Homo sapiens: one gene and its partners. Changing the gene in region 3 together with the main gene of any one other region gives a genetic interaction. Each region holds a gene or a part of one and is shown on either strand. Other genes may lie near its edges. The genes, in order: CCR6, LMTK3, REV3L, CSAD, A1BG, ATAD1 and SLC16A10.

Evidence for each region.
Region 1: changes in REV3L (region 3) and CCR6 impair growth when combined (synthetic growth defect), as found in Homo sapiens cells (one large-scale study listed by BioGRID).
Region 2: changes in REV3L (region 3) and LMTK3 impair growth when combined (synthetic growth defect), as found in Homo sapiens cells (one large-scale study listed by BioGRID).
Region 4: changes in REV3L (region 3) and CSAD impair growth when combined (synthetic growth defect), as found in Homo sapiens cells (one large-scale study listed by BioGRID).
Region 5: changes in REV3L (region 3) and A1BG impair growth when combined (synthetic growth defect), as found in Homo sapiens cells (one large-scale study listed by BioGRID).
Region 6: changes in REV3L (region 3) and ATAD1 impair growth when combined (synthetic growth defect), as found in Homo sapiens cells (one large-scale study listed by BioGRID).
Region 7: changes in REV3L (region 3) and SLC16A10 impair growth when combined (synthetic growth defect), as found in Homo sapiens cells (one large-scale study listed by BioGRID).

What each region holds. Positions count from the first base shown.
Region 1 is NC_000006.12:167,132,591-167,136,878, reverse strand, and holds part of CCR6 (C-C chemokine receptor type 6), read right to left. Parts: intron 842-4,288; 5' UTR 745-841; coding exon 736-744; intron 640-735; coding exon 1-639. UniProt on the Homo sapiens protein: Receptor for the C-C type chemokine CCL20. Binds to CCL20 and subsequently transduces a signal by increasing the intracellular calcium ion levels.
Region 2 is NC_000019.10:48,491,094-48,495,608, forward strand, and holds part of LMTK3 (serine/threonine-protein kinase LMTK3 precursor), read right to left. Parts: intron 3,017-4,515; coding exon 2,601-3,016; intron 447-2,600; coding exon 311-446; intron 153-310; coding exon 15-152; intron 1-14.
Region 3 is NC_000006.12:111,377,947-111,382,461, forward strand, and holds part of REV3L (DNA polymerase zeta catalytic subunit), read right to left. Parts: intron 3,499-4,515; coding exon 3,379-3,498; intron 2,274-3,378; coding exon 2,036-2,273; intron 1-2,035. UniProt on the Homo sapiens protein: Catalytic subunit of the DNA polymerase zeta complex, an error-prone polymerase specialized in translesion DNA synthesis (TLS). Lacks an intrinsic 3'-5' exonuclease activity and thus has no proofreading function.
Region 4 is NC_000012.12:53,174,134-53,178,648, forward strand, and holds part of CSAD (cysteine sulfinic acid decarboxylase), read right to left. Parts: intron 1-4,515. UniProt on the Homo sapiens protein: Catalyzes the decarboxylation of L-aspartate, 3-sulfino-L-alanine (cysteine sulfinic acid), and L-cysteate to beta-alanine, hypotaurine and taurine, respectively. The preferred substrate is 3-sulfino-L-alanine.
Region 5 is NC_000019.10:58,347,550-58,351,469, forward strand, and holds part of A1BG (alpha-1B-glycoprotein precursor), read right to left. Parts: coding exon 3,842-3,920; intron 3,103-3,841; coding exon 2,821-3,102; intron 92-2,820; coding exon 1-91.
Region 6 is NC_000010.11:87,807,773-87,812,287, forward strand, and holds part of ATAD1 (outer mitochondrial transmembrane helix translocase), read right to left. Parts: intron 1-4,515. UniProt on the Homo sapiens protein: Outer mitochondrial translocase required to remove mislocalized tail-anchored transmembrane proteins on mitochondria.
Region 7 is NC_000006.12:111,215,744-111,220,258, reverse strand, and holds part of SLC16A10 (monocarboxylate transporter 10), read right to left. Parts: intron 1,446-4,515; coding exon 1,217-1,445; intron 1-1,216. UniProt on the Homo sapiens protein: Sodium- and proton-independent thyroid hormones and aromatic acids transporter.

The DNA of each region.
Region 1 (4,288 bases), about 56 Mb from region 3:
CCCCAACATCAGCAGCTTCCACCTGATGGGCTCCGAGACAGTCTGGTACTTGGGTTCACAGACATCGCTGCCTTGGGTGTTGTATTTTTGGTTGAAGACAAAAGTTGAGCTGGAGATGATGACTGACAGCCCCCACACAACAAGGCAGATGATTTTGCTGCGCGGTAGTGTTCTGGATCGGAGCCGGAATGACTTAGTCGCCTGTACAATGGCGATGTACCGGTCCATGCTAATGCAAGTCAGGAGCAGCATCCCGCAGTTAAAGTTGATGGCATAGATGCCTTTTAGCAACTTGCACGTGGCATTGCTGAAAACCCACGCACCGGTGGCATGACTCACTGCCCAGAATGGGAGAGTAAGAACAAAGAGGATGTCTGCAATGGCCATGTTCAAGAGATAGACGTCTGTCATAGACCTGGCCTTCTTATAAAAAGCAAAGGTGATCACCACCAGAATATTCCCCAGGAGGCCAAAGACACAGATCAAGGAGTAGGCAATCGGTACAAATAGCCTGGAGAACTGCCTGACCTCCTGCAAGGAGCACAGTAACATCTCAGAATCAACTGAGTAATATGAAGTATTGACTGACACAAAATAATCTTCACTGGAGTCGAAAACATCGCTGAAATTCATTGATTCCTGGAAAGGAAACAAAGATAGAGTTAGCTGCAGTGTAGTGTTCAAGTAGCCACAGTGAACCCAAATTATACCCCTTGCCAAAAATAAAAATCTTACCCCGCTCATTGTGGGCAGAAAAAATGCAAGCTGGTTGTAGAAAAAGGAGTGTATGGTTCAGCCCCTTCAGCTCACAGGCAGCGGTAGCAGGAAAGTAGAGGTGACTCTAAGAAGGAAAGAAGGCAAAATGCACTACAGTTAACACAGGTATTCCTGGAGAGCCAGACAGTTAAGTTACCAGCATTCCATCTCGTGTGAACAGAGTGCACAGCACACTATTTTACATACAAATATTCATTGAGAATAGGCATCAGCAACCTCTTTCTGTAAAGGGCCAGATAGTAAATATTTTAGGGCTTTTCAGGCCATATGGTCTCTGTCACAGCTCCTCAAATCTGCCTTTGGAGCTTGAAAGCATCTACAATTACATAACTGAACAGGCCTCGCCGGGGTCCGTTGGCTAGAGGCTATAATTTGCCAACCCTTGATCTATTGGTTAAATAAGGTGCTCTCAGAAATCCACAAGTTTTGATCTGCACAAAAATCTTTACGCAAAATTTAAAAACATTCAACAAGATTTTACTGAACAAAATCTATAGAAGTGTGAAAGCGCATAGAAAATGTATAATTCATAGTCCCGGGCTTTAAATCGTTCACAATATATGTCAGTGATGATCACCCCTGTGGGCATGTGAGAATCTCCAGTAGAATTTAAAGTTTGACTATGAGTGCTGTTCTCAAGACACACTGAACAAGCTGCTCCAGCCTGGGAAGGCGCTGGAGAGGAATGCACCTGCTTCTCCACAGCCGCAGACCTTTCCAGTAGACATTCCAGGTCACAAGCATGAATCTGCTGTGGCAGAGGCATCCTAATCATCAGAAATCCAAATGCCAGAGGAAAGGTGGAGGCTGGCACAGTTAGGAAAGACTTCCTGGAGGAGGAGGCTCTGATCAGGGTTCTTGGAGAATGGTGAGGCTATGGGCCAATGATTGACAGAGAACCGCCATCTCCTTCAGGTGACCAGCTCGTCTCAGGCTGAAGAGCAGTCCTGAGTCATGAGCCCTGTATGTTTGTGAAACAGCTGAGCAACCAGCCTGGCCGAATCAACTGGATTGTCAGGAAACAATGGAGTATACCGTGTGCTGGGAACGCCAGCAGTGGCGGTGCATGGGTCCAGGCTGAAGAAGTTTAGCAGGAGACCGGGAAGAGCTGGAGCGGTTGTGGAGCGCCTGAGGACGAAGGGCTTTGAAATCCACCATCTGAAGCAAACTTAAAAAGAAAGAAAAACCCTTCGCTATTCTCAGGCTCACTCCTTCTTTCCAGCATTGTCCATCATCCTGTTTATTAACACGCCCTGGACGTCCCCCAGTAAAATCCATGGCCTGAAACGCTCTGATATTGACGTTGGATGTGCTTCCCAGCCAATCGCCCATCTTCCTCCTCTTTTCCCTGCTCTCGCACCACGTGGGCCTGGCCATGCCAAGCGGGAGCAGCTAGGGAAGTGCAGCCCCAGGTGCACAGGCAGAGAAAGTGGAACTGCCCTCCTCGCCCCCACACTGTGTCATATCAGTCCTCACTTACGAGTCCACGTGGATACTGACCTTTTGGAGAGGAAGCCCATGTAACACAAAGTTCACCCTGAATTATTTTCCAAACCTATTTCTTACATAATTTTGATTCTCATTTCATTATTTACTCCACCCCATTCCTTCCCTGATGCCTGGAGTCACAACTTAGAGATCGGTTCTTCACTGCCCCTCAGTCACTGCTTTGGGCCTAAAAAGCTGGAGGAAGGTATGGAGTCACCTCTGCACTTTTGTAATCCCAGCAGGTATACAGTTGAGTGCTTTAGAGTATGCAGAAGAAGCGTGGTATAGACCCCTGTGTTGCAAAAGCATGTGACGAGGTAATCGTATCAATCAGAAGAAGCACAGCAATCAGAACACCACTGCTAAACTTCAGCTTCCAGCCACGGTGGATCAACAGAGACCAAAGGCACCCTGCTGCATTAAACAACTAGAAAAACCTACAAAATGTAACAACCATTTTCAGACCTCGGCACTAGGCATCACAGGATTATGGATCCTGGCAGGAGGAGAACAAATACAGTGAGAAATGATACACACTCTTTCTAAGCTGCAGAGCATGGCAGGGGTGGAGGGCATGGGAGGTGAAATATACAATATGTAAAATAAAATACACCAATTGGAATTACCATTTGGATGTTAAAACTATATATATATATATATATATATATATATATATATATACACACATATATCATATATAATAGTATCAATAATTATATATACAATTGTATCATAAAATGTAAAATACTTATGGATAGCTCTAACAAAATTTATGTGAGATTTATATGCTAAAAACTACAAAACATTGTTGGCAAAAATTAAATAAGACCTAAATTAATGGAGAAATTTATCATGTTCAATTTTCAATGACATTTCATGTTCAAATTTATCAAAGATTCAATTTCAAGATATAATTTCTCCCCAAATCGATCTGTAGATACAACATAAACTAAATCAAAATTATGGTAGGGTTTTTTTTTTGAGAAATTGACAAGTCAATTCCAAAATTTTTATAGAAATTCAAGGAAATTAAAATAGCCAAAACAATTTTGAAAAAGATAAAAAAAAAATGGAGGACTCACACTACCCAGTCTCAGAGCTGACAAGGAACTACACTAACCATGACGGTGTTGGATTTCTGAAAGGACAGTTACATAAATCACTGGAACAGAACAGAGGCCAGACATAGATCCACATATAGATGGCGGACTGATTTTTAACTTAGGTGCCAAGGTAACTCAATGGGAAAAGAACAGTCTTCAGTAAATGGTCCTGGAATGACATGAACAAAAAGTCGATCCTTACTGCTTACCTCACACCATTTGCAAAAGGTAACTCAAATGAGTTATAAATCTAAATGTGAGAGCTAAAGCATAAAACATCTAGAAGGAAAAATGGGAGAAAATCTTTGTGACCCTGGAAAAAGAAGCTTCTTATATAAATTGCAAAAAGAATGAACTGTAAAAAAATTGATAAATTGTACTTGATTGTACAAAATGTAAAACTTCTGCTCTTTGAAAGACACTCAAGAAAGTGAAACATATATATATTGAATAGAAAAAAGTATGTTAAAGCTTATATCTGATAATAGGTTATATCCAGAATATACAAATAATTTTTACAACTCCCTATCAAAAACATAAACAATAAGAAACAGGGGGAAATGTGAACAGGCAATTCACCAAGGAAAATACATGGATGGCAAATACACACACAAAAAAGACGCTCAATGCCATTAATCATGAGGAAAATGCAAATTAAAACCACAATGAAGGCTGGGAACAGTGGCTCAGGCCTGTAATCCCAGCAATTTGGGAGGCCGAGGCAGACGGACCACTTAAGTCCAGGAGTTCGAGACCATCCTGGCCAACATGGTGAAACCCCATCTTTACTAAAAATACAAAAATTAGCCAGGCGTGATGGCGTGCTCCTGTAATCCCAGCTACTTGGGGGGCTGAGGCAGGAGAATCAGTTGAACCCGGGAGGCGGAGGTTGCAATGAGCTGAGATTACGCCACTGCAGT
Region 2 (4,515 bases), on a different chromosome or scaffold from region 3:
CGAGGATATGGTACCTGCGGGCCGGGCGTCGGGGGCCCGGGCGGGTGGCCCCGGGGTCTCCAGCGCAGGCGAGACGGAGAAGCGGGAGAAGCACAGCGGGGGGCCTGGAGGGGGGAGGAGGGGGAAATCCTCCGCCCACTCGAAACTGCCTCCTGCGGCAGAAGGAAAGACCGCGGTCAGGCTGCAGACACCTGCGGCACTCCCGCCCTCTGGTCCCGCCCCTCCCGACCAAGCCCCTCCCACCCCATAGACCCCGCCCCGTCCGCCCCATGGCTCCCGCCCCCTCCCGCCCCATAGGGCCCGTCCTCACCAAAGCCGCTGTCGTTGCTGGGAAACCCATCTCCGGGGGTGGCGGGGTGGGGAGGTGTCGGGGGCGCTGGAGGCGTTGACGGGTCCGTGTCCCCCTCGGGGGGGGCCTGGACGCTCAGCTCGTTGGTTGGCGTCTCCTGTGAAGGCAGATTAGGGGGAAGCCAGAGGGGACAAACCTTCACGTCCCATTTACCGCATCCCCCAAAAGCAACAAAACCGGCTAATATTTCTGGGGCTCTAGGAATCCCAATTTGTAATCACTGACTCGCACGCTCTGGAGAGGTGGCTGGAGCCCCTAATCTGGCTTCGAAGCCTTGGGCCAGCCTTAACCTCAACCTGGCCAGAGGCTCCTTTCCTGACAGCGGAGCCCCGCGCACAGCTAAGTAGCCCAACGCAGGGATTCTCTCCTGGCTCATTAACGTGAGGCCTCCACCGGATCCCCTAACCCAAAGCGATCTCCATAAGCCCCACCCCGTCCACGTCAGTCCCACCCACCTCTGAGATCTTGACCTGCTCCAGTGGCCCTCCCAACCCCTGCCCCATCCTGAGCGCATGCCGTGCTGGATGCTGTGACCCTGCCCCTGAGCCCTCCCTCAGAAGTAGACCTGCTCCCGCCCTCCAAGTCCCACCCCTCTGAAAACATTTCAGTGGCCCAGGCCCCAGTTCTTGGCCTTGTTTCCATTCCTTTCATAATCTCAGCCCAGTATGCCCGCCCCAGGTTCATCTAGACAAGGTCCCAGTTCCTCAGCACCACTCGCCCTCCCTTTTTCTCTTCAACACCATATCCTGTGTTTTTCTTTTTGTTTTAGACAGAGTCTCACTGTCGCCCAGGCTGGAGAGCAGTGTTGTGATCATGGCTCAATGCAGCCTCAACCTCCTGGGCTCAAGCGATCCTCCCACCTGAGCCTCCTAAGTAGCTGGGACTACAGATGCGCACCACCACACCAAGATAATTTTTTTCTTTTTAAGAGACGAGGTCTCGCCATTTTGGCTAGGCTGGTCTCGAACTCTTGACCTCAAGTGATCCTCCCGCCTCGGCCTCCCAAAGTGCTGGGATTACAGGCGTGAGCCACCCGGGACAGGCCTAACTCTTAACACATTCCTCAACCCATCTCTCTAAAGACCCGTCCCAGTCGTTAGGTTCGCTCATCCCTGACCTCACCCCAGAATACGTTAAGACTGCCTGCTCCATCTCTGAAGCCCACCTGCAGCCTAGCCATGGCCCTTCCCTAGTGGGTAAGATCTGCTCCAACCCGAACCAGCCTACAGACACTAGAACTCTAGTCAACAAACCATGCCCAAACTCTCACTAGGCCCCTTCACCATCCAGGCCTCTTCTCAACACTTCCTCCCTAGCCTCTCCAGGATCCCATACTTGACTACCCAGTACCCCCTCTTTCCTTCCAGACCCACACTCTCTCTCCAGACCTCTCCTCGCCCTCTAGACCACGCCCCCGTCACAAGCCCTGCCCTCACCCTAGGTCCCGCCCCAGCTCTAGGCTCGGCCCATACTCCTGGCCCTGCCCCATTGCCAGGCCCTGCCCTCACACTCAAAGCCTCCTCCCATCTTCCTAGTCCCGCCCCATTTCCCTGACCAGTCTCTCCCCAGACCCCGCCTTCACCCCTCAGGCCCTTCCCGCGCCCTGCTCCATCCGCCCCGCCCTAGGCTCCGCCCCCATTCCAGCCTTGGATTTTCTCCAGGCCTCCTCTTGCCGCGCCACAGACTTGGCCTCCCTCAGGCCCGGATCCAGACTCTGTCCCGATCCTAGGCGCGGTCTCCTTCCAGGCCCCGCCCCCGCTCTAGGCTCAGCCTGCCTTCAAACCCTGCTGTAGACCCCGCCCCACCCTAAGCTCAGCCTTCGTCTAGGCCCCGCCCCAGGCCCTGCACCTCTAGGCTCGACCTCCCTCCAGGCCCCGCCCTGGGCTCCGCCCCCCAGCCCGCCCTCTCCCTGGGCCCCGCCCCACTCTAGCTCGGCCCCGCCCCAGGCCCCGCCCCACTCTAGATTGGGGCTCCCCTTAGGTCCCACCCCAATTCAGCTTGCCCTCCCTCCAGGCCCCGCATCACTCCAGCTCGGCCTCCCTTCAGGCCACGCCCCACTCTAACTCGGCCTCCCTCCAGGCCCCGCCCCACCCTAGCTCGGCCTCCCTTCAGGCCCCGCCCCACTCCAGCTCCGCCTCCCTCCAGGCCCCGCCCAACTCTAAGCTCGGCCTCCCGCCAGGCCCTTCCCGGCTCTAGGCTCCTGCTCCCTCCAGGCCGCGACCCCGAAACCGCGCCCTCTCGGGTTCCGCACCTGGTCGAAGAGGTAGACGGTCACGTCCCCGTGGAAGGAGACCATCTTGCGCTTCCTCTCCAGCTCGCTGTCCTCTGGCTCGTCGGCCCCGCGCGGAGACTTGAGCAGCCCCCGCAGCGGGCGGGCCGCGTCCGCGTCGGCGCTGCTCACCACGACGGGCACCGGGGCTGCTCGCGCCCTCCCGGGGCCCCGCGGCCCCGCCGCCGCGCCCGGCGCCGCCGCCTCCTCGTCCTCCTCCTCGTCCTCGTCCTCGTCCTCCCCGTCCTCCTCCGCCGGCCCCGGCGCTCCCGCCCCGCCGGCCTCCCCGCCAGCCGCCCCGGCGTCCGCGCCCTCCCACGGGGGCCGCCGCGGGCCCGGCCCCGGGAATGGCGTGAGCGTGAGCGGCGGCAGCGCCAGCGAGAGCCGGGAGAGCCTGGCTGCGAGGGGAGAGACCTGGTGAGCCCCTGTCCCGGTGAAACTGAGGCAGGCCCTCCCACCTAGCTGTGTGGCCTCAGATAAGACCCCCGCACAATCTGGGCCTCAGCACCCACTTTGTGAACGGAAGGGCTGCACCAGGGCTTCTCCAGGCAGGGTGGGAAAGGTCCTCTCCAGTGCTCAACCTCCCCAGAGCTCCCCAGTGCCAACGGCTTTAAGCCGCAACTTCCCACAGCCCACCAGGCCCTCATGCCCTGGCCTACCTGATTTCTCTGGCCTCTGTCCCCACCTCCTCTGGCCTGACCTCCATCTAGCCACATGGGCCACCCCACCATTCCTCCCACCGAATAGCTGGGACTACAGGCGCACGTGCCACCATGCCCGGCTAATTTTTTGTATTTTTAGTAGAGACGGGGTTTCACCATGCTGGCCAGGCTGGTCTTGAACTCCTGACCTTATGATCTGCCCTCTTTGGCCTCCCAAAGTGCTGGGATTACAGGCATGAGCCACCACACCCGGCCAGATCCACCTCTCTGAGCCTCTGTTTCCTCACTGGCAAATGAACAAGGGTCACTTAGCCCTCCATTACTGCATAAGTGAACTGCCCTTTCTGAGCTGATGGCAGGGGCAAGAGGAGGGTGGAGGTGGGGCAGGGAGAAAGATGAATGCAGACGGTCCCTCTCAGGTCCTCGTTCTCTCTACTCAAGTTTTACTACCTTTTGCTATTCTCTAAACATGGTGAGCCAGTGCACATCTCAGTGCCCTCTCTAGAACACTCTCCCACCGATGTCCACCTGCCTCACTCCCTCCTTTCCTTCACATCTGCTCAAAAGTCACACTTTTGTTGACCAGACATCTCAGGGTGATGGGGTTATGGGCGATGCTTCATAGAGGGAGTGTTTTTTTTGTTTTTTTTTTTGAAATGAAGTCTTGCTCTCGTCGCCCAGGCTGGAGTGCAGTGGTACGATCTCGGCGCATTGCAACCTCCGCCTCCTGAGTTCAAGCGATTCTCCTGCCTCAGCCTCCCGAGTAGCTGGGATTACAGGTGCCTGCCCCCACGCTCAGCTAATTTTTGTATTTTTAGTAGAGACAGGGTTTCACCATGTTGGCCAGGCTGGTCTCGAACTCCTGACCTCAGGCGATCCTCCCACCTCGGCCTCCCAAAGTGCTGGGATTACAGGTGTGAGCCACCGCACCCAGCCTAGAGGGGGTTTTTCTGGAGTTATGAGTACCCAGATGAAGGTCAGGTTGACAACCTTTAAAAATTAGGGAAGGCTTCCTGGAAAGGGGAAATTTGGGGTCTTGAAGGATGAGTAGTTCACTTGGGAAAAAGCGGGCCATTCTCTGCCTCTTTTCACCCCCCAATCCTAATCCAACCCAGATCCTCTGACGCATCTTAGCTGCTCATCTCCCAACATTTTCATGCAGCCTGGGCTGTTTCCTGATACAGCTGTTCACAAACTCCCTACAACAATCTCAAGGAAGTGACAGTGTTCGAACA
Region 3 (4,515 bases):
ACTATAATAATGTATCTAAGTTACTCTATAGTAAAACAATACAAAAAATCTGAAAATTGTAACTTCTAGAAAAGCATATTTACTTTGCTTTATTAACATGTCTTACTATAGTAACTTACAAAGAGTTATTATAATTAGACTTCATAATCCCTTTCATGTGAGCTAAAATACACCACAATTCCTGCATTCTGAATTGGAAGAAACAAGAATAAAAAGATGAGTGAAGGGGCATTGAGGTCAGGGCTGAAGAGAAAATGCTGAAGAAGAGAGAGGGTAATAGGAAGTAGTAAAGGTGTTCAGTCAACCTGACAATAACTACAAAGGGTTACTGAGAAATTCAGATGGACAGTGAAGTCCAGTCTTTAAGTTTCATCTCATATTGGTATTAACTTGATGTTTTCCCTTTTAATTGAATGGGCAAACTTTTTTCCTATCCATACCCAATTTTTTCTTTCACTAATCTCAACAATTTGAAATTATTATTATTTTATTATACTTATTATACTGGAACTGTTTTTCCATTAAGCCTTTCCAAATCACAATTTATCATAAAAATCACTCCCTTAAGAGCTGAAAGAGGTATCAGAGGTCCAGTCCAACTTTCTACCCAATGCGAAAACCTCATTTTTAACGAACCTGACACAATCTCTGTTTTTACATAATCTGTATAAGGGGCTTGCTGTCTCACAGGGCAATCTTTCCACTGTTAATGGCTTTAATTATTCATAGTTGTCTTCTTGTAATACACAAACTCTTTCAACTTCCATACATGATTCCTATTTTGTTCTCTGTAGCTATACAGAGCAGGTTGATGTCATTTTCCACATGATAATCTTTAAAATACATAAAGGCATTTCTCATTCATCTTGTAATTCTAATTAGATCAAACATTCTCCATTCAAAAGTTCTTCAAAAGTGACAATGCTCACAGATCCTTCTAGTTTTCTTCCTCTTCTTTCCCTTTCCTTTTTCAGTATTCTTAAAATATGGTACTCAGCACAGAATATAATATCCAATATAAAGAGCAGAATTAACTAAACCCTTTTCTAGACACCATGCTTCTACTATTCAATCTCTCTCTAATATATGTGTACAAAATGTTTAGGTTTGTTTTCCCAAGGTTAAATTGGGCATGGTTTTCACCAAATTGGTTCAGCCACTGAACATACAAACATAAATTTAATCATAGGATTGACTATGCCTATTATTACAGCAGTGACAATGTTAGAGGAAAGAATTTAACATCACATCTGGAGATTTCTATATCTGATTTATTAAGTAGAAAAATAAAAACTTTCATCATATACATGTAAACACTGAATTTATGGATTAACCTGTTTCACCTTTCAGTGATGGCTTTGGGTTGGAAATTTCAAATACAGACTAAAAAAGTTCTAATCTAGCCTATAGAAGTTTAAAGGAGAGGCATACTCAGTCTTTCAGGCTCATAGGCCTAGATTTTTCTATACACAGAGCATATAACTAAAGGGCAGACTCAAACCAATCAAGTTCACAGAGACTGATTTAGAAAACCACAACACCAACTTATTCATTTATTTTGAGAAACAAACCACAACACCAGTGTTTGCTTCTTAGTCTTTTATTTATTTGTTTTTAACCTTAGTTCCCTTAGTCTAATCAGAGCCCAAAACCATACCCTGTCTTCAGGCTGACTCTATACATTGTTGTTCTGATACCCAACAGTTCAACTATCACAGGGCATTCTTTTTCTTAAGTTCTAAGATAAGAAGGCACTTCAATTTTGCTCCATTTATCACTCACATATGTTAATACTGTGTATATAAATGGATAACTTCTAAAAGTTAGGTTAATCTTTTAAAATGTAGCAAAACTTTATTTTGCTTGGAATATGGAGTATACGCCATATGAAAAACAGATCACTAAAGGGGAATTTTAAAACATCAATTTAGTTCATAAGGTATTTTATATCATGAACAATAGTAATAAATAATTTCTGATTGAAGGACAATAATGATAAAAGTTAATAAAACAACTGCAATAACTAAAAAATTACCTCTTTTTGGCACAATGTTCTTCAATATTGCTGTCCCATCTCTGGGACATCACCAAACTAAGCTCCATTTCCTCTTTTTCAATCTGTGGTTCATTTTCTTCATCATCACTATTTTGTGGATATTTATTATTTCCAAAGGAGCGACATGGTGATGGCATCCTATTTCTTTCCCCCCGATATCCATCACTTTCCAAACCAGCAAGAAGATGTACCAGAGCCTCATCAGGACTACTGTCCACTATAAAACAAGTACAATAATCACCAACAAATAAGTTTTCTTTTTTTTTTTTGACACGGAGTCTTGCTCTCTCACCCAGGCTGGAGTTGGAGTGCAGTGGCGTGATCTAGGCTCACTGCAAGCTCTGCCTCCTGGGTTCATGCCATTCTCCTGCCTCAGCCTCCCGAGTAGCTGGGACTACAGGTGCCCGTCACCACACCTGGTTAATTTTTTGTATTTTTAGCAGAGATGGGGTTTCACCGTGTTAGCCAGGATGGTCTCGATCTCCTGACCTCGTGATCTGCCTGCCTCGGCCTCCCAAAGTGCTGGGATTACAGGCGTGAGCCACCACGCCCGGCCTGTTTTCTTAATAATCCAACAATTCAGATCACTCAGAATAAAATAACAACATCATAGATACTGGCACAGGCTGAAAGAATACAGTTGGTACAAAGGCTCAGGTGTTGAGGTAGCTCTCCTATCAAAGTTGATCCTTGGACCACCTGCATTAGAGTAATTTAGGGACATTATTAAAATAACATTGTTGTGTGCTCCAGCCAGGGCTGCCTGGGACTGCACAGGGTCTTGGCCGTGGGTACAGCTCAGCACTGTCAGCCCCTAGTTGGGAGGCCTTGCCAGGGAAGGCTGGCAGTGGCTGCAGGAAGCCTGAGATGCCACTCAAGGGGAGGCCACTGAAGGACTGGTTGAGTGCAGCCCTGGCCAGTGAGATGAGGAGGCTGGGACCATGGCCCTAGCCACCCGTGTTTCCTCCGGTGAAATTTGTGATACTCACCAAGAAAGAACCACTTATGGTGTTTTAGTAATGTACTGAACTTTGCAAAATATTAATTCAAAATAAATGCATTTTCCTTCTTAAGTAATACGGTTTTCCGTGAATCAAAGTACAGTTAAAAAAACTATTTTCTTTCACAAATTTTTTTAAGCTGTATAGAAAAAAAGCAAAGCTACTTGATTTAATGCAAGGTTTCATTTTCATATTCAGTAGAGTGTTTACTGAACATGCAACATTTACCTCTTCAAGTCAATAAAAAAAAAAATGCCTCTTCACAACACACATTTTCTCTGAATTACAATACTGAATATTTATGGTAGCACTGTTACTTACTGAAAACAGGTGACTCACTCAGTCTTTGGGTCAAAGGCTGAAAAGTCTGACTATTTTCCATAAGGTTCAAAATTGCTTCTTCATTAATAAGAGCTTCTTCCACTTTGTGTCTAGTGTGACCTTAATTTGACAAAGAATAAAAAAAATTGAAGCAATGGCCTAAATCCAAAATTTATCATTTAGAATTTGTGTAAATTTGGAAGCATTACCATATAAACCTATTTTAAATTTCAAAATGTTAATGATGCATGCCAAATAAAAACATAATAAAAAGCCACAGAAATATTTAACCAGTCACATGGATTTATCAAAACAAACACTGAATCTATAAATCACCAAATATTTATAACCTCTTTAATCCTACTTAATGTGTGTAGTTATATTACTCTGATAAAAATCACTGCATATTCAAATATATAAAGTGAAAAGGAAAGATAAACTATCTTATTTGAATACTAAAATTCTTTATTCTCTATGGTTCAAAAACAACAAATTTAGAATAAATGTTTTTGAACTCTCCTAGAAAAAAAAAATTGACAGTGCTCATTATTTGACACATGTGTATTGGACTCTCTTTTGAATGCATAAAAAATAAAGAGCTTAGTGTAATCCCTAATGGGGCGTGTGTTGGTTTTTCATGCCTGTTTGTGAACTGTAGTTGTGGTTTCCCATTTCATTGCCATAACTGGGCAGAAATAGTTTTTAAGTGCTATAAAAATACAAAGAAATGGTTAAGCAATTAAAAAATTCATTTTACATTAATATTTTTCAGAAAGCTTTCATTATATATCACATTCATTACATTTTCATGATATCAAAAAATATTAGTCCATGTGGCCATATGGAATCCTCCAACAATTGCCGTCCCCTGAAGGAACACCAAACTGAACTACCCACACAAGAAAGCGCCTTCATTAGAATAAAAAATCAGGAGAGCAATCACAGTACTTGGTTTTAACAACGTATCAAGGAAAGAGGCAGCGAAGAGGGTAGAAAAGACAGTCGTGAATTGCTGACAGCACCTCCCATCTCTCAGGCAGTGGTCTTGAGGCACGGAGAGAGAAATCTGTGCTTAGGAGAGACAGAACAGAGTGAATATGGGACTTTGCTTTGCATTGGAACTCAGTGCTACCCTGT
Region 4 (4,515 bases), on a different chromosome or scaffold from region 3:
CTCTACTAAAAATACAAAAAATTAGCCGGGTGTGGTGGCGGGCCCCTGTAGTCCCAGCTAGCTACTCTGGAGGCTGAGGCAGGAGAATGGCGTGAACCCGGGAGGCAGAGCTTGCAGTGAGCAGAGATCGCGCCACTGCACCCCAGCCTAGGCGACAGAGCGAGACTCCATCTCAAAAAAAAAAAAAAGAAAAAAAGAAAATACTGAAAAAGAAGGAAAAAGACTTCAAAATATTCATTTGTGGCTATTTCTGGGTGTTGTTATGGATGATTTTTAAGTTTATTATTTATACACATCTATATTTTTATAACTTTATACAATCATTTCACATTGCTTATGGAATTAAAATAACGGTTCTTTTTAAACAATATAAAAATTGTCCGCGTGTGGTGGCTCACACCTGTAATCCCAGCACTTTGGGATGCTGAGGTGGGTGGATCACCTGAGGTCAGGGGTTTGAGACCAGCCTGGCCAACATGGCGAAACCTCATTTCTACTAAAAAATACACAATTAGCCGGGCGTGGTGGCGGGTGCCTGTAATCCCAGCTACTCAGGAGGCTGAGGCAGGATCCACCTGAACCTGTGAGGCGGAGGTTGCACTGAGCCAAGATGGTACCACTGCACTCCAGCCTGGGCGACAGAGTGGGACTCCATTTCAAAAATATATATATATATGGAGGAATTAAGGGGGTACAAGAATTCTAAAATATACAAATCATCAGGCTCAAGGAATGTCCCTTGCACATCATGTGGTTTCCCAACTCCTCAATCCACTGTTATCAAAGGTCTAATGGAAGGCAAAGGGAGCCACACACTGCTCATCTCTATTACGCAACCCCTCAACCCCCGCTGGCTCTCAGGGAAGGGAATGGGTTCAGTTTGTTCAGCAAACATTGACTGAGTGTTGTCTACTTCTGAGCGCCTGGCTGGCATTACCCTAGGTGCTGCATCTGCCCTGTGGGCTCCAGCTAACAGGCTGGCAAGAGAGACCTGCATGTAAAATAAAGGGAAATTGCCACAAGAGGGAGTTGAGAGGTCACCATGGAAAGGCAGGAAAGTTCAACTGGCCCAGGACAGGCTTCAAGGACAAAACACTAAGGCTCTCCTTAAGGCAATAGAGAGCTGGTGCAGGAAAAGACTCAGCAGGAGTCATTGCAATGCTATTTGAATAAGTGATGGAGTGGGCCTGAGGGAAGAGGGAGTTAGGGAAGGTCACACAGGAGGAGGCCTGCCTGGGGACAAAGGGATCTAGGCAATTGTCTCCTGAAGCGCTCTCAGCCAGGTTTATGGTTAGAAAGCTAAAGTACTCTGTGCTATCTCCCAATCAACAAACCCTAGTGGCTCCACACCCACATTAATAAAGGCACAAACTCTCCTATGTATACAATCTTTTCTCTGCTTCTAGACTGTACTCTCCTGGGTGGAGAGAACTAAGTCTTTTCCTTCATTAAGTAAACTAATAGAAAACAGGGACCCCTCAAATGTTAGTTTCCATCTTCTTGATTGTCCTCTCCCCTCCCCCAGGGACTTGCACAGAGGCATTACATAAACATTTGTTAAATCAATCAATGATTTGCAGGTACTGGAAAAAATGCTGCATTCTACTTACATTTGATTTGCATCAACCAAGAATCTGTAGTAATGATAATAGATTTGCAAAGGGTGTTTTTCCTTCTCATTTATTATCTTATTTGACCTTCACAATAGTATTAGAAATTAGCCTAAATAGGTATTTATTCATTCTTGTTTTCAAGATGAGGATTCTTAGCTGAAAGAAGGTGAACTAATTGTCCAAAATTACAAAGGTGACATGGGAACAAGCCTAGATCACTGACTTTCTGACTTTAGGCTACCTCTTCCACTGCATCACAGGTCCGTGTGGCATTTCTCACTATTTCTCATCATTGACAAAAATTAACTGCAGCTAAGATAAAGACAGAAACTGAAAATATACAACCATAAGAATACAAGAAGGGGGGGTGAGGGGCGGGCACAGTGGCTCAAGCCTGTAATCCCAGCACTTGGGAGGCCGAGGCAGGTGGATCACCTGAGGTCACCTGAGGTCAGGAGTTCGAGACCAGCCTGACCAACATGGTGAAACCCCGTCTCTACTAAAAATACAAAAATTAGCCGGGTGTGGTGGTGCATGCCTGTAATCCCAGCTACTTGGGAGGCTGAGGCAGAAGAATCGCTTGAACCCGGGAGGCAGAGGTTGCAGTGAGCCAAGATCGCACCATTGCATTCCAGCCTGGGCAGCAAGAGCAAAATTCCATCTCAAAAAAAAAAACAAGAATACCAGAAGGGGCTGGGAGCAGTGGCTCACGCCTGTAATCCCAGCACTTTGGGAGGCCAGGGCGGGTGGATCACGAGGTCAGGAGATCGAGACCATCCTGGCTAATATGGTGAAACCCCATCTCTACTAAAAATACAAAAAATTAGCCCGGCATGGTGGTGGGCACCTGCAGTCCCAGCTACTCAGGAGGCTGAGGCAGGAGAACGGCGAGAACCCGGGAGGCGGAGCTTGCAGTGAGCCGAGATCATGCCACTGCACTCCAGCCTGGGTGACAGAGCGAGACTCCATCTCAAAAAAAAAAAAAATATTTATTTATTATTTTAGAGAATAAGTTTTGCTGTATCACCCAGGCTGAAGTGCAGTAGCACAATCATGTCTTACTGCAGCTTCGAACTCTTGGGCTCAAACAATTCTCCCACCTCAGCCTCCTGAGTAGCTAGGACTACAGGCACATGCCAGCATGCCGGGTTAATTTTTTAATTTTTTGTAAACAGGGTCTCACTATGTTGCCCAGGCTGGTCTTAAACTCTTGGCTTCAAGCAATCCTCCCACCTCAGCCTCCCAAAGCACTGGGATTACAGGTGTGAGCCACCTCGCCTGGCCAAAATATAATGTTTTTATTGTGAATCAGATTATTTATTCTATGGTATTTTAGTGTTGGTTATATTCTTATATTTTATTTATATAATTTTTGTTTGTTAATCTGACATCTGGTCATGTTGCTGAACTCCATAGTTTTGATACATTGTCAATCGTTTCTCTTTGTAAGATGAATATATATGAAATCAAGGAGGCTTTAGGGTGGCCAGGAGCTCTCCTAAAATCTTAGTTTTAATAGTAAACATCCCTGGCTTGTTCCTAGCAAAGACAGAAATGTTTCAAATATTTTCCCATAAAGCATGACTTTTGTCTCAAAAGCTGAAAGATAAGTGAAAAAGAGAAAATATTTTAAATGCAGACGACAAAGAATAGTTATTATCCATAACACAGACAGGATTTCTACCATCAATAAGAAATATACAAATGATCTACCTTTTTTTAATGGGCAAAGGATATGAACAGACAGTTTACAAAAACAATTAAAATGGTCAAAGAGCAATAAAATAGTCCCACCTATTTGGAAGGCTGAAGTGGGAGGATCACTTGAGCTCACGAGTTGGAAACCAGCCTAAGGCAACAAAGCGTGGAGACCCATCTATTTATTTATTTATTTATTTATTTATTTTTTGAGACAGAGTTTCGCTCTTGTTGCCCAGGCTGGAGTGCAATGGCACAATATGGGCTCACTGCAACCCCCGCCTCCCGGGTTCAAGTGATTCTCCTGCCTCAGCCACCTGGTAACTGGGATTACAGGCACGTGCCACCAAGCCCAGCTAATTTTTTTGTATTTTTAGTAGAGATGGGGTTTCTCCATGTTGGCCCAGCTGGTCTCAAACTCCTGGCCTCAGGTGATCCGCCCACCTCGGTCTCCCAGAGTGCTGGGATTACAGGCGTGAGCCACCGTGCCTGTCCAGAGACCCATCTCTTAAAAAAAAAAAAGGCAATAAGAGAATATTAACTTCACTATTAATGACATGAAAATTAAAACAAATACTATTTTTCACCCATTAAACTAGTAACTGTATAAAAAATTCATAGCATACACTAAACATTGCCAAAGTTGTAGGAATAGGGAACATTCACACATGGTTCTGAGTAAACATGGGAGTTGTTACAAACTTTTACAATTCATTTTCACAGAATCTATTAAAATTTACATATCCGGCCAGGCATGGTGGCTCAATCCTGTAATCCTAGCACTCTAGGAGGCCGAGGCCAATGGATAGCTTGAGCCTAGGAATTCGAGACCAGCCTGGGCAACATGGCAAAACCCTGTCTCTACAAAAAACAAAAAAACAAAAAAAAAACTACAAAATTATCCAGGCACAGTTGCCCACATCTGTAGTCCCAACTACTTGGGAGGCTAAGATGGGAGGATTCCTTGAGCCCAGGAGGTTGAGGCTGCAGTGTGCCCTGACTGCACCATTGCACTCCAGCCTGGGCGACAGACCAAGACCCTATCTTTAAACAGAATGAAAATAGGGCCGGGTGTGGTGGCTCACACCTGGAATCCCAGCACTTTGGGAGGCCAAGGTGGGTAGATGACCTGAGGTCAGGAGTTCAAGACCAGCCTGACCAACATGGTGAAACTCCATCTCTACTAAAAAATACAAAAAAATTA
Region 5 (3,920 bases), on a different chromosome or scaffold from region 3:
GGGATGGGTCCCTCGCAGCGCAGGACGGCATCTCGGCCCGCCAGGACCGCCCCACTCCACGTCGCCCGGAGCTGAGGCCTGGGAGGGGGTCCTGGGCGGAGCGGGCGGGTGGTCGGGCCAGGCCACGCCCCAGGCCACGCCCCAGGCCACACCCCAGGCCACACCCCAGGCCGCGCCCGCGCCTGCGCCTCAGCCCCGGCTTCATCTTCCCTGTCTTGTTCCTGGGCGCAGAGGGCTCCTCCGGCGCCGCCGAGCTGCGCCCGCTGCCTTCACACCCCGGACATCCGCGCCACACGTGAGTGTCCCCGCACCCCTCCCCCAGGACCGTGGAAGTCCCAGATTCGGGCCTGCTCTGGGGCTTCTGGGGTCCCCAGCCTCGGTCACTCTGACGGGTGAAGGGAAGAAGAAATGATGGAGAAAACGGTGCTCCTTCATGGAGGGACCAAAAAAGGACATACAATCTATGTCAATAGATGAGGGTTTTCCCTCCATAAGTTTAACTTTAAAAGTGTATTTAAGGTGCCGGGCGCAGTGGCTCACACCTGTAATCTCAGCACTTTGAGAGGCCGAGGCAGGCGGATTGCCTGAGCTCAGGAGTTCCAGACCAGCCTGGGTAACACGGTGAAACCCCGTCTCTACTAAAATACAAAAAATTAGCCGGGCGTGGCAGCGTGCGCCTGTAATCCCAGCTACTCGGGAGGTGGAGGCAGGAAAATTGCTTGAACCTGGGAGGCAGAGGTTTCAGTGAGCCAAGATTGCGCCACTGCACTCCAGCCCGGGTGACAGAGTGACACTCCGTCTCAAAAACAAACAAACAAAACAAAACTGTAAGGAATCAAATGTTACAAAATCCTGGAAGATTTTGGTAATGCTGTTGATAATTTCAGGGAAATTAATGAAGTACATGTAAGTGCTTGATTTAAATGTGTATTTTATTCAATAGTTTGAGTATCTTGCCATGGAAGATACTAGCCCAGCCTAGCAGAAAAGTGCAATATGTATAATATACTTTCGCATTTTAAAAGTTATATTCCCTATCCATTTTGAAATGCTAGCCAAACTACATGAAGTTATTTGCAATTAATTGTAAGCTAATCAGGAATTTTGAAAGCTTGATTGGATTAACAAACTATAATGTTGAAATTTGGTAAAATCATAATGTTAATTTTTACTGTGAAACGTTTTCTTGTAAGATAGATATACACATCCTAGTTTAATTTTGTGTCTTAGTGTGGATTTACAAATTTACTACAGTTATTCTGAGCCCAGGAACCCAATCAGATTTCAGGCCAGTTTGATACTGGCTGTTCTTAATTCTAACAGGAGAGTAGGACATCATACTAAATGTTATGTCAGTGGGACTGTGTTGTCTTTGGAGCTTAGTAAATTAATCATTTTCTTCAGACTTTAAGGAGAGTGATAAATAAAATTTGGAGTCATAGGATATAGATGTACAATTTAAAGATTAAACATTTTTTTTTTTTTTGAGATGGAGTTTTGCTCTTGTTGCCCAGGCTGGAATGCAGTGGCATGACCTGGACTCACTGCAAACTCCACCTCCCGGGTTAAAGCAATTCTCCTGCCTCAGCCTCCCAAGTGGCTGGGATTACAGGCATGTGCCACCACAGCTGGCTAATTTTGTATTTTTAGTAGAGACAGGGTTTCTCCATGTTGGCCAGGCTGCTCTTGAACTCCTGATTTTGTGATCCACCCGCCTTGGCCTCCCAAAGTGCTGTGATTACAGGCGTGAGCCACCTTGCCTGGCCAAGATTAAACATTTTTCATCAATTGTGGATGGTGGCTTATAACACTGCAAGAATAGGCTGGGCATGGTGACTCACAAGTGTAATCCCAGCACTTTGGGAGGCAGAGGCGGGCAGATCACAAGGTCAGGAGGTCAAGACCAGCCCAGCCAACATAGCAAAACCCGGTCTCTACTAAAAATACGAAAATTAGGTGGGCATGGTGGCATGCGCCTCTAATACCAGCTACTCAGGAGGCTGAGGCAGGAGAACTGCCTGAACCCAGAAGGCGAAAGTTGCAGTGAGCTGAGACTGCACCACTGCACTCCGGCCTGCAAGAATAAAAGTAAGTTATCCAAAAAAAAAACAAAAAGGAGAAGAAAAGGGAGGAATGAAGGAGAGAGATGGGGTTGGGGGGCAGAGATGAGAGAGAGAGAAAGAAGAAAAAAGAAGAAAGAAAAGAGAGAAAGAAGGAAGGAAGAAAGAAAGAAGGAAAGAGAAAGAAAGAAAGAGGAAGGAAGGCAGGAAAGAAAAGAAAGAAAGTGAAAGAAAAGAGAAAACGGTGCTCCCAGCAAAGGGTACGACCTCAAGATCTGGAGGTCAGACCTGTGCCCTCACGCTCTGCTGGGCTCTGAGTCCTGGAGACGTCGATGAGGAAATCAGAGGGACAAACAGAGCTGGGGACGGCGGGGATGGGGAGAAGGACACATCAGCCGTGCGCCTGCGGGACCGGGGCCGGGGCGGGGGGTCCAGTATGACGACTGACATGGCCAGTAATAAAACAAGGCAGCCACAGAGCTGCAGGGATCTGAACAAGAAAACCTGGGGCCAGCCTCCCTGCTGCCGACCACCACGCTACACGTGACCTACGGGCTTGCGTCCGTGGGAAATAAGCCGAAATTCCAGGCGTCCCCAGACCCTCGACCACCGATCGCCTGCTCCCCGCCGGGGTAGGCGATGGGGGCTGAACCAAGGCCCAGAGCGCCGCCGTCGGACGCCCAAGGAAAGAGGGGAAAGACAGGAGGCCCCGAGGGGCACTGAACCCGCGCCCGCCCTCGCTGGTGCCCCGCCAGCTCACCGTCCACGTGCAGCTCCAAGCGCTCGCTGGGCGCGGAGCCCCCGAAAGGCGGCTTCAGGTCCACGTAGACGCAGCTGTAGTTGGCGGAGTCAGCCACGGAAATGTTGTGCAGCTCGAAGAGCGCCTCGGTCCCAGCGGGGCTCTGGAAACGGTGCACGCGGCGCCCGCCCCTGTCCTCGCGCACCAGGGCGAAGCGCGCGCCCTCCAGGGGCGCCAGGCACCGCAGCCGCAAGGCCCTGCCGGACTCCGGCTCCGGGGAGAACTCCGGCGCGGGCAGCGTCTCTGCGGAGCAGCACACGGGCTGACCCGGGCGCCCAGCGGCTGGCTCGGCCCTAACGCGTGGTCTGGCCTCGCGCTCTTTGCCTTGGCTGAGTCTTCTGCCCGCAATGACCTGGCCAGCTTCCTCCCTCGCCTCCTCCGGGCCCGCCCCACCTTTGCATCCCAGTCCTTGGATATCTCACACGCACCCTTTCACTGTTTCTTAGTAATTTGTTTGTCTACAGACACAGACGGGAAGCGGGGACGGGGACATGTTTTGTGCATGGCTTGATGCCTGGTGCACGATGCCGCTCAGTAGTGGATTTGCTCCACGAGCGTCTTCTGAGCACCGCCCCAATGCCCGCCCCACGGAGGGGCCCCTGTGGTCCGCTGGGCATGGGGTTCGCTGTCCGGTGCTCAGAGTTTGCTAAATACCATCAGGTCCAAGGCAAGCGAGCGGAGGAGCTGCCTCAGCAGAGGCCCTCAGTGCTCACCTAGACCTGGCAGCTGGGATGGGACCTGCCAGGTGGTGCCCCCTGTGGCCTGGGCCAGACCTGTTCACCCAGTTATTCCCTGTGGGGCCTGAAGGTTGTCACGCTCATCATCATATTTGCAGTTTAGGACCCTGAATCGGCGGGTGGGCGGATAAAGTTGGTATTGGACCCTGGCCCAGAGCACTGCACTTCCCCAGACTCTACACCTGGTACTGCTCCTGCTCCCCAGGGACCCAGCCGCGTCCCTGTCCCTGCTGGCCCCGGCTCACCATCGCTCAGAATCAGCTCGACCGGCGCGCTGTCCCCGGACCAGCCGTTTTGGTTGTCATGCAGCCGGTAGCGGCAGGT
Region 6 (4,515 bases), on a different chromosome or scaffold from region 3:
AAGTGCTATTATTATTTCTTTTACAGATAAGAAAACTCAAGACCCAAAGTAGTTAAATAAAACTTTGTGTTTTAGGATTGCCTTCCCTATTTATAGACTTTTGTTCTTCCACATGAATTTCAGGAAAAAATACAACAAAACGAAAATCTGCCAGTATTTTTGTACTGATGTTGAATTTAACTAAACTTTCAATAGTTTTATAATTTTCTCTATGAATGTGTTGTATGTCTTATGTTTGTCCGTTGTTTTATATTTTTGATGCTACTATATAATGCTTTTTTTAAATGACATTTTAAAACATGATGGGTATACAGAAACAGCTGATTTTCGTATACTGATTTTAAATCCAGCAAACCCATCAAACTCTCATGAATCCTGATAGCTTGTAAACATTCTTTGGCTTTCTATGTAGATTATCATATTATCCATTAATAATGACTATTTAGTTTCTTCTTTTCCAATCCCCACCTTTTTGACTTAGGCAGTGGCTAGTAACTCAGTAAAATGTTAAACAGAAGTAAAAGTAAACAAAGAAGTAAACAAAGTAAACAAAGAAAAGCCAAAAAAAAAAAAAAAGTAATGAAAAGTAATGAAAGACAACAGGCTTGCTCCTAATCATAAAGAGAATGTTTCCAATTCTTCACTATAAAATACATTTGTTTTAGTAAATGCATTTTATCAAGTTAAAGATCGCCTGAAGCCGGGAGGCAGAGGTTGCAGTGAGCCAAAATCATGCCACTGCACTCCAGCCTGGGCAACAGAGCAAGGCTCCGTCTAAAAGAAAACACAAAAAACAAAACAAAACAAAAAGAACACTATCTTCTGTTCCCATTTTATTAAAAGCTTTTCTAAAACCATGAATGAATGCTTAAGGCCTTTTCTGCATTTATTGGGAGAATCATACAGGTTTTATTCTTTAATCTGTTAATGTTGCATATTATATTGATTTCCCATCCCTTAAATGAAGCCAGGCTTAAACTCCTGGGATAAATCCAACTGGTCGCATTATATTTTTTCTATATTGCTGAATTTAACTTGCTGACATTTAAGATTCTTATACCAATTTAGAAGGGAGAGAGAGAAATTACAGACTACTATAGGTTTTAGAACTGTAGTTATGCTAGCCTCACAAAAAGGTTTGGAAGTGTTCCCTCGTTTCCTATATTCTAGAAGAATTTGCATAAATTGGTTATTATTAATTTGTTCCTTAAATACTGGCAGAATTTGCTATAAAGTTCTATGGGCCTGAAGTTTTCTTTATAAAAAGATATTTTCACTATTAACTTATTTCATAGTTATGGAACTAACCATGTATTCTATTTCTTCTTAAGTCAGTTTTAGAAATGCATATTTTTCTAAGGGTTTACCCATACCTAAGTTCTCAAATTTATCGACGTAACAGTTGACCCTTACACAATACAGGGATTGGGATACTGACCCCAACACACTCAAAAATCCATAGAGAACTTTTGACTCCCCTCAAACTGAACTACTAAAATAGCCTACTGTTGACCTTATCACTAACAGAAACAGTTAATAACATAGTTTGTATACTGTATTCTTGCAATAAAGTAACCTAGAGAAAGCATGTTATTTAAAAAATCATAAAGGGAAATATATTAACTTCATCCTCATCATCTTCATGTTGAGTAGCGTGAGGAAGAGAGGTTGGTCTTTCTGTCTCAGGTTGGCAGAGGTAAAAGAGGTGAAGGTGGAAGGAGTGGCAGGAGAGACGGGCACACTCAATTGAACTTTCATTAAAAAAAAAAAAATCTGCTTATGAGTGGACCTATGCAGTTTAAACACGTTGTTTGTTGTTCAAGGGCCCACTATAGTTATGAACAGTCCTAATTTTTTTTATTTATTAATTTTATTTATTTATTTATTTATTTATTTATTTTGAGATGGAGTTTCTCTCTTGTTGCCCAGGCTGGAGTGCAATGGCGCAATCTCGGCTCATTGTAACCCCCGCCTCCTGGATTCAAGCGATTCTCCTCCTGAGTATCTGCGACTACAGGAACATGCCACCACGCCCGGCTAATTTTGTATTTTTAGTAGAGACAGGGTTTCACAATGTTGGCCAGGCTGGTCTCAAACTCCTGACCTCAGGTGATCTACCTGCCTCAGACTCTCAAAGTGCTAGGATTACAGGTGTAAGCCACCGTGCCCGGCCCTTGTTTTTAATATCTACAGCAATATTAGGCCTTTTTTGTTCCAGGTAGTATTTTATTGGTAACTTTTTTCTTGTCGGTTTGAAAAGTCTTGATTTTATGTCTTTTCAAAAAAACAATTTTGGGTTTTATTGATTTTTCTCTACTGTATATTCACTTTCTATTTCATTAACTTATGTTATTATTTCCATTCATTTCATTATTATGTGCTTTCTTTTACCCAGGAGTCATTTTAAAATATTTCATACTTTCCAAACTTATTTTTCTAATGATCTCTACTGTACTGCACTATAGCCAGGAAATGTTAATAAATACGCTACCAATATTATGAAACTTGAGATTTGCTTTATTATCTAGTATTCGGTTTATTTTCACAAATCATATGTGCTTCAGATATGTATTTTGCATTTATTTTGGCACAATATACTATACATGTCCATTTTTTATTTAAATCTTCTATATCCTTAATTTTTAAAAAATCTGAACAATTATTAGGTGTTAAAAGTCTCTCACCATGTTGATGGAGATGTCCATTTTTCCCTGTAGTTATATCATATTTTTGCTTTATGTATTTTCAGGCTACATCAATAGTTACACACAAATAGAAATGTTATATTTATTGGTGAATTGAATCTTTCATCATTTATGTAGCAAACATTTTCTCCAATATCTTTGCCTTACAATTTCTTTTTGCCCAGCCAGTTTTCTTCTTATATTTGTGTGGTATATACATTTCCATCTTTTTACTTTCAACCTTTCTGAATCTATATTTTAGATGTGTTACTTCACCCAGCATATGGCTTAAATTTCTCTCTTTAAACTATTCATCTTTAAAACACTGTGTCTTTATCTTTAGTTGAAATACTACAGATAGCCTTTTGGGGTTCTAGATTTATAGGAGTATCATCTATGAAACTACCTACTTTAGATTGGCCCTATGTTTTGTATACTGAGCCCCTCTGAAATCATAAAAACAGAATTCAGCAAATTCTCTCAAGGTAAAGGCTGGCAATCAAGCTCACCTTAGCTTTCTGAAATTTTTGCCTTAAGTTTTTAACCTGCATTCTTTACTTTGTTGATAGCTCATGAATGCCTTTAAGATTTTTAGGCCAGACACAGTGGCCCACACCTGTAATCTCAGCACTTTGGGAGGCCAAAGCGGGCAGATCACTTGAGGTCAGGAGTTCAAGACCAGCCTGGTCAACATGGTGAAACCCCGTCTCTACTAAAACTACAAAAATTAGCCACGTGTGGTTGCACACTTCTGTAATCCCAGCTACTCCGGAGGCTGAGGCAGGAGAATCACTTGAACCCGGAAGAAGCAGGGTACAGCGAGCTGAGATTGTACCACTGCACTCCAGCCTGTGCAACACAGCAAGACTCCAACTCAAAAATAAATAAATAAATAAATAAATAAAACAAGATTTTTAAAAAATTATCAAGCTTCTTTAGCTGTTTTCAGCAGGAGTCAGTCTTGTTACCCATACTGACCTATTCATTCTTCACTGGCTGCACATCATCTTTCTATACCCTAAATAAAGGAAATGTATCAAGGCTTACGCTTCAGCTTACCAATTATGCTGCATTACACCACCTCTTTTGGAGACTTCATCACTCTTAGTATAGTCATTACCATTTATTACAGTGACAATTACATTAGAATTTCTCAACAAATATATGTATAAATCTTGATGGTGGTGAGGGGAGATGGGGAATAATTTGGGAAAAGTTCTACAAATGATATCTACACATACAGGAATAACCATATGGCCTACTCACTGTTCTAACGACTTCAACTACTTATAACCATCGATAAGGAAATATACCTCTGGATTGACCTTTTTTCTGAGATTCAGACCTGCAACTTCAATTGCTATATGAACATTTCCTCCTGAATTCCTACCACCAACACAAACCCAACATGGCCAGATCAAATGTCATCTTCTCATAAATTTGCCCTACCTACCAGTTTCCAAACCTCTATAAAAGATATTATAAGTCTTTGAGGTATCCAGACAAATCTTTGGTTCGTTTTTAAGATTTTAAGATGTCCTTTTTCTTTTCCCACATCATCACAAAGTCCTTCCTGCATTCATTTGTGTTAGTCTATTTCACTCAAGTCATTCCTTTTGTCACCCTCTTATTCTAAGTCTTTGCCAGGACTGTTGCAGTCTATCACCAACAGATCTTGCTTCTAGTACCTCTTGACTCCTATTCCTTCTGCATACTACTATAAGGTGAATTATCCTTAAAACATTGTATATCACCCACCCATTCAAATATATTTAATGAGTTAAGCCTACAGAAGTCTTCAATTGGTCAACAGCATATTTATTTATTTATT
Region 7 (4,515 bases), 160 kb from region 3:
AGTTCCAAAATATTTTCATCATGCCAAAAGGACACTTCATTCCAATTAAGTAGTTACTTCCCAATCCCTTTCTCTCCAGCCCCTGGCAGTCACCAGTTTTCTATCTGTATGAATTTACCTATTTTGGATATTTCACATGAAATAAATCATACGATATATGACCTTTTATTTTGAGACAGGGTCTCACTCTGTCACCCAGGCTGGAGTGCAGTGGTGCTATCACGGCTCTGCAGCCTTGATCTCCCAGGCGCAATAGATCCTCTCGCCTCCGCCTCTGGAGTAGGTGGGACTACACTAATATTAGTATGTGTCACCATGCCAGGCTAATTTTTTTTATTTTTAGTAGAGACAAGGTCTTGCTATGTTACCCAAGCTAGTCTGGAACTCCTGAGCTCAAATGATTCTCCTGCCTTGGCCTCTCAAAGTGCTGGGATTACAGGTGTGAGCCACCATGCCCAGCCACGTCACCTTTTATGTTTGGCTTCTTTCACTTAGCATAATGTTCTTGAGGTCCATTCACCTGGTAGCATCAGTTCTGTACCTTACTCCTTTTTATGGCTGAATAATATTGCACTGTAGATATTCCACATTTTGCTTACCCAGTTAGGTATTTACAGGCATTTGGGTTTTTTCTATCATGTTATTTTTCATCAACTACTCCTCAGGGGGATGTATGATCTCTTACCAAAAGCCGACATATTTAGAAATCTTTCAGAATCTTCAACTTTTTTTTTTTTTAAAGATAGGGTTTCGCCTAGGCTGGGGTACAGTGGTATGATCACAGCTCACTGCAGCCTTGACCTCTGGGCTCAAGCAATCCCCCCACCTCAGCCTCCTGTGCATCTGGGACTGCAGATGCATGCCACCACGCCTGGCTAATTTTTTTATTTTTTATTTTTTGTAGAGATAGTGTCTCACTATGTTGTCCAGGCTGGTCTCAAGCTCCTGAGCTCAGGTGATCTTCCCGCCTCAGCCTCCCAAAGTGTTTTATATAGTGTTTTAGCTGCCAGTAAGGATAAGAGGGACTCTTCAGCAAATTCAACATACTGTTTAATAGCTAGTCTTATTAAAAATGTTACCAGTAAGGCACACATAAAAGCAAAAGACCAGTAATCAATAACCTGTAATATGTTTTACATATAAATGAGACTTAATTAAGACCTGAAGTAGAAAATACTATGAATTAATATAACTACTGGAGAATCATTATATTTACCTGCAATGGGTGGGCCAACAGTCATGGGTATAGACATGAATCCGAGCAGAAATCCAATTGCTTGGGAGACATCCTGGGCACCAACTAACTCAAAGGCTATGGGAGCCATAATGGAAATGAAGCATCCATCGAAGAGACCCATGATGAGGCACACAGCAATGAGGGCCCCAAAGATGCTACACAGAGGAATCATCATGGACATCAGACCAATGAAGAAAAAGGAGAGTACCTAGGACGGACACCACAAGGTCAGCTCCGCTCGCAGGAAGCAAATGTCACAATTACCATGCAACATGCTTAGGACTTCTAAGTCATTACTGGTTCCCCCTTTCCCCCCTGCCACTGCCTCATTCACTTTGATTTTACATACATAATCAACTCCTATAATCATCTCCTTCGAGTTCCCCTAGACATTTTCTCAATATTTCCATTAAGGGACAAGATTAAAAAAACGTATTGTTTTTGAGCTGGAGTCTGTCTCTGTTGCCCAGGCTGGAGTGCAGTGGTGTGATCTCAGCTCATTACAACCTCCGCTTCCCAGGTTCAAGCAATTCTTCTGCCTAAGCCTCCTGAGTAGCTGGGACTACAGGCAAGCACCACAAAGTCCAGCTAATTTTTGTATTTTTAGTAGAGATGGGGCTTCCCCATGTTGGGCAGGCTGGTCTTGAACTCCTGACCTCAAGTGATCCACCTGCCCGGCCTCCCAAAGTGCTGGGATTACAGGCATGAGCCACAGCGCCTGGCCGAAAATGACTTTTTATATATTTAATTTCCCTCCCAGCCTGCAAATCCCTTGAAGTCAGAATCTGTACCAAAAAAAAAATTCATCTTTGGACTAGATATTATGAAGTTTAAGGATCCTGTATCTGGTCAGTGCTCAATCAGCTCAAATTCATTAAACACTTGATTTTTTTTTAACCTTTAAAACTATGTATACTTCACTGGCAGAGATTATAGATAAATTTAAGCACCCCAGAGTTAAGGCTTATTATATTATTTTGAGCCATTGAACACTTTCAGTTCAGTGTTAGAGTAGTTAATAGAATTGAACACCTGATTTTGCCTACTATTTGGTAGGCACTGTGCTATGTGCTAGAGGTTTCAACAATGAATAAGATTTCGTTCCTACCCTTGGGTTATGGAAAGATGGACATTTAAATAAATAAGTGCAAGTGAAGTGTTTATATGCTGCCGTAGTTATATATTCAAAGTATGATGGGTACAAAAAAGGAGGAAACAGTCAATTTAATAACTTTTTTAAGGCACAGAACCTGTTAAAACTGAACCATTCATGGCCGGGCACGGTGGCTCATGCCTGTAACCCCAGCACTTTGGGAGGCCGAGGTGGGCAGATCATGAGGTCGGGAGATCGAGACCATCCTGGCTAACAAGGTGAAACCCCGTCTTTACTAAAAATACAAAAAAATTAGCCGGGCGTGGTGGCCGGCGCCTGTAATCCCAGCTACTCGGGAGGCTAAGGCAGGAGAATGGCGTGAATCCGGGGGGTGGAGCTTGCAGTGAGCCGAGATCATGCCACTGCACTCCAGCCTGGGCGACAGAGCGAGACTCCGTCTCAAACAACAACAACAACAACAACAACAACAAAAACTGAACAATTCACTAGTCAGCAGAAAAAATTTTTAAAAGCATCAAGTTTTTTAAAAGTATGCATATAATAGCAACTATCATTTATTTAGTGTTTACCAAGTGCCAAGCATTGTTGTAAGCACTTTAGATTGATTATCTCACTGGTGATCCTCATAACAACTTTATGAGGTGGTACTAATGTTATCTCCATTTTGCTGATGAAGATAGTGACGCTGGGAGAGGTTAATGTGCCCAAAGCACAGAAGATGGAGCCGTCCTGGAACCATGGCCCACGGGGGCAGCAGCAGGCTGTGAACAGAACTGTGCCTGGAGGGTGCCCTCCAATAGCAGTCAGGCTAGGGAGGAAGGAGAGACCAGATAAAGCAGCTGTATGCATCACTGTCCTCATCTGTTCTGTTTTTCCTAGGCCCTACTAGCACACCTACGGACCTACGGAAGCTGGAGGTTGGTAGTACACCTCGGGGCAGCCACTCACAATCTGAGGGCCTCTGAAGGTGCAGAGTGTGAGTTCTGGGTGGAATTCAGGAGTGTTGGTTTTCACAACTTTAACACAAGTGGTCCACTGACACCAAAATAGGAAACATGCTCCTGAAAACTGTTTCATATTGGGTTAGTTCTTTTTGACACCATCATATCATACAGTTCGGTACATTTTTTCTTCAATCACTAAACTATGGTCTTATGGTAAAATTATGATTCGTTTAGGAATACGAGTTGGCCGGCTGGGCGCGGTGGCTCACGCCTGTAATCCCAGCAGTTTGGGAGGCTGAGGAGGGCGGATCACGAGGTCAGGAGATCAAGATCATCCTGGCTAACACGGTGAAACCCCGTCTCTACTAAAAATACAAAAAAAAAAAAAAAAAAGTTAGCCGGGCGTGGTGGTGGGCGCCTGTAGTCCCAGTTACTCGGAGGCTGAGGCAGGAGAATGGCGTCAACCCAGCAGGCGGAGCTTGCAGTGAGCCGAGATCGCCCCACTGCACTCCAGCCTGGGCGACAGTGTGAGACTCCCTCTCAAAAAAAAAAGAAAAGAAAAGAATACGAGTTGGGCATTTGAAAAATAAGCCTAGCACTTCACACTAGCATTTCAAAAGAACAAAATCTCCCCATTCTCCTGACTTTTGTTTGCCAGTTAAATATCCTTTTCTCCAATGCAACTTCCATGACAGCACAAGCATAATTTCTTAGTGGTGAGTAATTGTTGGGCCTACAGCCTGGCAGGTTGGAAAGAACTGGGGCTCAGAGGGACACTACCAGGTTCTAAGCTCTCTATGACCTTGAGCAAGTAAAAAGACTTCCTGATACTTCCCATTTATTGAGACAAAAAGAGATTTAAAGATAAATCAAAATGTAGAAAAGGGTTTGAAATTAACAAGCAGGTAAAGATTTAAGTAGTAATTTTTATTGAAAATCTAAGTAGATAAACCCCAATTTTTTATTTTTGAAACAGGTCTCACTTTGTTGCCCAGGCTGGAATGCAGTGGTGCGATCATAGCTCACTGCAGCCTCAACCTCCTGGGCTCAAAGTGATCCTCCCACTTTAGTCTCCCAAGTAGCTGGGACATGCCACTATGCCCGGCTAATTTTTTATTTTTTGTAGAGATGGGGTCTTACTATGTTGCCCAGGCCATTCTTGAACTCCCGGGCTCAAACAAACTACTTGCTTTGGCCTCCCAAAGTGCTGGGATTATAGG